Linked DNA regions of Homo sapiens: region 2 is linked to region 1. The links come from fine-mapping of genetic effects on plasma protein levels. A gene starts in region 1. The other region holds a variant in brackets. All regions are shown on one strand. Distances are from middle to middle.

Evidence for each region. A credible set is the group of variants that fine-mapping cannot tell apart. PIP is the posterior inclusion probability: the model's chance that the variant is causal. Sun 2018 read protein levels with aptamers (SomaScan).
Region 2: its variant is the best candidate, but not a certain one, in a credible set for the plasma level of the CCDC126 protein (Sun 2018, PIP 0.54).

Annotation. Positions count from the first base shown.
Region 1 is chr7:23,596,067-23,598,974 of GRCh38, reverse strand. CCDC126 (coiled-coil domain containing 126) reads right to left here and starts at 1,593. Exons shown (of 4, transcript NM_138771.4): 1 at 1,370-1,593; 2 at 924-1,008. It overlaps LOC105375187 (a long non-coding RNA gene), which reads left to right and starts at 1,650. Exons shown (of 2, transcript XR_927098.2): 1 at 1,650-1,858. RefSeq lists a silencer at 1,112-1,351.
Region 2 is chr7:23,580,590-23,583,497 of GRCh38, reverse strand. No RefSeq gene overlaps it. Among named protein-coding and RNA genes, the nearest start is that of CCDC126, 15 kb to the left of the region's middle. RefSeq lists a silencer at 2,345-2,536. The variant A/C (reference allele first, on the strand shown) is at 1,580.

The DNA of each region.
Region 1 (2,908 bases):
CCACATTTAAAAAAAAACCTCTAAAAACCTTTATCATTGAAAGTCTGAGCTAGAAGAGTCCTTGGAATCAGACCAATTCACTATTTTAGAGATGAGGACATTGAGGACCACAAAGTAATCTCAGGTTACACAGATAGTGACAGAGCAAGGACAAAACTAAGGACTCCTATTTCCGTAGCCATTACTCTCTGTCCTACACTGCACTAAATAACACCAACATAGAAACATTTTCCTCAAAACAAGTATTTTTGCAACACATTTTAGAGTGAGAAATTATTAATCAGTGAGAAGATGCAGACAGATGTAGAAAAAAGTTGACCCAGGTTAAATATGGTGAAGCCCAGAGGCAGGACTGTAAAATACCTGGATGCCTACTCTGACGAAACAAACACTTAGCGCCTCTAAGGATTCCCAAAGGACACACCTGAGGGGGAGGGGAGAGGTGAATACTTGTACCTCTGAAGCTGATCCACAGAAAAGCAGAGTCATCAATTTCCTAAGAACATTCTCAGCCATCTTAAAACAGCAAAAATTAGGAAGACGGCATATTTTAATGAATCCTTTGGTTAGGTTTAAGATAAAGTGAAGAACACACAACCCAGGATGATTAAACAAACAAAAGCACAAAACTCAAGTCCAGAGGCCACTTCGGTCACTTCAGTCATAGCTAATGAAAGTATCACAAAGGATCTTTTCATCAAATGAAGAACTAATGACGTTATAGGTCTATATTCCTAATTCTAACCACTTACAGGTGTGTGTTTTGATGGATGAGAAAACTCAAGCTTAGAGCCTTTAAGTAACCAAGATCACCAAGGCAGGCAGTGAGAGAAACCCAGGCAGGATTCGAACCCTAGCTGGCTGAGCCATTCTCATTACCGTCACAGTCAACAATCAACACGGCAGTTTAAGTTCATCCTTACCAGTCACCCAGGAGATGAGTTTTGAAGAGGGAGTTTAAAAGGGGCATCTGACTTTCTCTCTCTCCCAAAGTAGAAGAGAACTGAGCTGTCAAAAACAGAAAAAGAAGTGAGTGCGGTGCCGCCCGGGATCTACATCCCGCAGCTCCGGACCAAGCCCGCCCCGCTCGACTCGCGCAGCCCCAGCCACGCTCGGCTCTCCGCCCGAGCCGAGGCGCCGCGGCTGTCAGACGCGGAGGGGCAGAGACGCGGCCCAAAGGAAGGGACAAAGAGCCTTCCCGGCCGCGGCCGGAGGCTGCCGGCCCGTTCCTAAGCCGGGTTTCCGCAGCAGCGGCCCTAGCGGGGCGGGGACCGGGGACGGGGGCGCGGCGGGGGAGGAGCGGCCGGCTAGGCTGAGGGGCGCGCGAGAGGTGCGGGCCCGGCTGGCGGACTCGCCCCTTACTCATTACCTGGCCGTGGGCTTCTCGTCACGGTCGCCGCCGCCACGGAGCTTCTGAGCCGGGGCGACGCAGCGAGAGCTAATAAGCGGGCGTCAGCTGCGTCCCACACTGGCGAAGCAGCCTCCAGATCGAGCTGGAGAAACGCCGGTGGGTGGGAGTTGGGACGAGGTTTGTTCCCAGCTTGTGGAGATTTTACTCCGCTCGTCCCTCGCACTCGGCTTCCGCTCCGCCTCCCTGCCGGCCCTTCCCGCACTCGGGGGCCAGCCGCCCGCGGCGCGCGGCATTGTGGGGGATGTAGTCCCAGAATGAGGAAGCGGCGGCACGTGCTTCCAGCCGCCCTGCACCTACCCTGGGTCAGAACGACGCAGCTGCGCGGCAACCAGAGAGGGCGGCGGGGTCTTCTGTGTTGGAAGATGAGCCCGCCAGAGGCATACCCTCGGCCTTAACTCGCTGCAGGCGCTGGAAGAAGGGCTCTGGCGTCTTGTTCCCGACCCTCCGGTGAGGAACCAACCTCCTAATACTATTGACCTGAGGCTGGGAAAGCTTAGTGATGATTAAGTGTGCTACAGATGAGACTACCCATTATTGAAGCCAAAGGTCCTTAGCCAGTGGAGTGAGGCAAGAAAAATAAAAGGATTGAAGATTAAATAGGAAGAAACAAAATTATTTTTTCATAGATTATGTAATTATGTACGTGGAGGCCGGGCGCCGTTGGCTCATGCCTGTAATCCCAGCAGTTTGTGAGGCCAAGACGGGAGGATCACCTGAGGTCGGGAATTCGAGACCAGCCTGGCCAACATGGTGAAACCCCGTCTCTACTACAGATACGAACTTAGCAGGGCGAGGTGGCGGACGCCTGTAATTCCAGCCTCTCGGGGAGCTGAGGCGGGAGAATTGCTTGAACCCAGGAGGCGGAGGTTGCAGTGAGCTGATATCGCGCCACTGCACTCCAGCCTGGGCAACAAGAGCAGAACTCCGTCTCAAAAAAAAAAAAAAATTGTTTGTGGCACTTCAAAACAATCTGCAGATAAACTGTTAACAATAAAAGTTTTTAACAAGGTTAATAGATACAAAAATCATATTTTAAAAAATCAATATTTATTTATATATGCTAGTAAAAAAGATAATTTTTTTAAAGATACCATTTCCAACAGCTCCAAACAAATATCAAGTACCTAGGAATAAATCGATCAAAGAAATGCAAAACCTGCCTGAAGAAAACATTGGAAGACACTGAAGAAGACCTAAATAAAGATGTAACATGTTCATAAATTGGAAGAGTCAATACTGAAAAATGCCAAGTCTCTCCAAACCTACCTACAGAGCCAGTGCAATTCCCAACAAAATCTCAATAAATTTCTGTGTATGTGTGAGAAACTTGACAAGCTAATTCAAAATGTTATGGAAGAGCAAAGACAAGCATTCATGAGGAAGAGGAGGAAGAAAAAAAAAGAAGAGGAGAAGGAGTGGGAGGAGGAAAACTTGTGCTACCGGATAACAAGCTTTATTATAGACTAGGCACGGTGGCCCATGCCTATGATCTCAGCA
Region 2 (2,908 bases), 15 kb after region 1:
CATGCCTGTAATTCCAACACTTTGGGAGACTGGGGCAGAAGGATGGCTTTTGGCCAGGAGTTCAAGGCTGCAGTGAGCTATCATAGTGCCATAACACACCAGCCTGGGCAACAGAATGAGACCCTGTCTCTTAAAATATATATATAAATATATATATTTATATATAGTTATATAAATATTTATAAATGTATAAATATCTATATATTTAATATTTATATATGTATAAATATTTATATATAATATATAAATATATTATATATACATATATATATTTTATATATTTATATATTATATATATATTATATATATATATATAATATATATATATATATGGCTGGGCACCGTTGCTTATGCCTGTAATACCAACACTCTGGGAGGCTGAGGCAGGTGGATCAGGAGTTCCAGACCAGCCTGGCCAACATGGTGAAACCCCGTTTCTACTAAAAATACAAAAAATTAGCTGGGCATGGTGTCAGGCACCTGTAATCCCCAGCTACTCAGGAGGCTGAGGCAGGAGATTCGCTTGAACTCGGGAGGCAGAGGTTGCAGTGAGCTGAGCTTGTGCCATTGCACTCCATCCTGGTCAACAAGAGTGAAACTCTGTATCAAAAAAAAAAAAAAGTATATATATGTGTGTTTGATAAATCCCAAGGATAAAGTAATTTTACTTGGCTAATTGCAATTTTATAAACTAAAAGGACAAAAAGGAATAGCTGTGACAGACGTTTCTAATGAATCATCTTTATTGCTGTAAACTCATAGAAAACTGTTAAAATTGTTACTATAGTGAATAATAAAAGGAAAGTATTTTCAAAACTTCCAGGCCAAATTGATGTGCAGAGTTTTCTTAGGTTCCAAAAACTGTAAGGGTAAAGGGACCCATACAAGACTTGAATTCATTCATTCTACACCATCCCTGACATTTGAAGGTCATCCAGCTTAAAACAAAACAAAACAAAACACTCAAGTGATAGTAAACTCACTACTTTCAAAGGAACTTTATTTAATCTTCAGGAAACTTCATTTTTAAAGTTCTTCTGTATATTGAAAAGAAATCTTTCTTCCATCTACCTCTTGGCCTGAGTCCTATCCTTTAGGACCGTACTTTCAGGAACAATTGCTCTTCATGCACCCTCTGCATCTGCTCTTTTCCAAGGTCTATCAGGTTCTTTTTTTTTTTTTTTTTTTTAAGAGACAGGGTCTCCCTATGTTGCCCAGACTGGTCTTGAACTCCTGGGCTCAAGGGATCCTCCTGCCTCAGCCTCCCAAAGTGCTAGGATTACAGGCATGAGCCACCACACCTGGCTCCAAGGCCTTTCAGTTCTGAGGATCAGTGATTTGGGTTGAGTTTGACTGTGTGGTTCTCCTGCCAGTCTTACTTGGAATCACTTATGCCGCTGCAATCATCAGGCAGTCTGACTGGGGCTAGATGGTCTAAGATGACCTCATTCCTTGTATCAAACACTGTTCTGAGCATTTTACTTGCATTATCTCTGTTACTTTCTCAACAACCTAGGAGATAAACCCTATTATTATGTTGTATTAGAAATGAATATAGGTGAAAAAGAAATTTAAAAAA[A/C]TAAAAAAGAAATGAATATAGTTGATACACTGAACAGGCGGGACTCACAGTTGTATTTGGAAAAACAACTGGCTTTCTTTTCTCCGCTTTTCATTCAAAGCTGCTCTAGAGGGATGGCTTGCTTTAGAAGCAAGCCCTGTGACTTATCTGGTCACTCTTAGATAATAAAAAGTCTGATTTTTGCTGGGCACAGTGGCACACACTTGTAGTCCCAGCTACTCAGGAGGCTGAGACAGGAGGATTATTTGAGCCCAAGAGTTCAGATCCAAGATCCAACCTGGGCAACATTGTGAGACCCCCTCTCTCTTTTTTTTTTTTTTTTTTAAGAGACAGAGTCTCACTCTGTCACTCAGGCTGGAGTGCAGTGATGCCATCACAGCTCATCGCAGCCTCTATCTCCCAGGTTTAAGTGATTCTCCCACTTCAGCCTCCCCAGTAGCAGGGACTACATGCATATGCCACCATGCCTGGCTAATTCTTTTTAATTTTTTGTAGAGATAGGGGTCTCACTGTCTTGCCCAGGCTATTCTTGAATTCCTGGGCTCAAGCAATCCTCCCATCTTGGCCTGCCAAAGTGTTGGGATTACAGGCATGAGCCACCGCGCCTGGGCTTTTTTTTCCTCTCGAGACAGGGTCTGACCAGGCATGGTGGCTCATGCCTGTAATCCTAGCACTTTGGGAGGCCAAGGTGGGAGGATAGCTTGAGCTCAGGAGTTCGAGACCAGGCTGGGCAACATGGTGAGACCTCATCGAAAAAAAAAAAAGAGGGAGGGAGGGAGAGAGACACGGTCTCACACTGTCACCCAGGCCACAGGCCCTCACCACAATGCTCAACTAATTTTTTAATTTTTTGTAGACAGGTTCTCTCCATAGTGCCCAGGCTGGTCTTGTACTCCTGGGCTCAGGGAATCCTCCTGCCTTCACCTCCAAAAATGTTGGGATTACAGGCATCAGCCACCACACCCAGCTATATTTATTTTATTTTTTTTCTTAAATGTTTTTACGTACCCAGGAAAGATCTGAGAGAAGAGTCCTATTTTAACATTCCGTTACATGAGGAAAGTAAGGCTTTAAAATTTTAAATAACTTGTTCTAGGTCACAGATAATAAAAAGAAAAATTGGATTCAAAAATTACTGTCATGGGTACTATGTTCAGAACCTGGGTGATGGGATCAATCATACCACAAACCTCAGCATCATGCAATATAACCAAGTAACAAACCTGCACATGTATCTTCAAATCTAAGATAAAAGTTAAAAAGAATGAAAGAAAGATATTCTTATTTTTCCTTGCAAAAAAATTAGCGTCTTAAATATGCTTACGAATT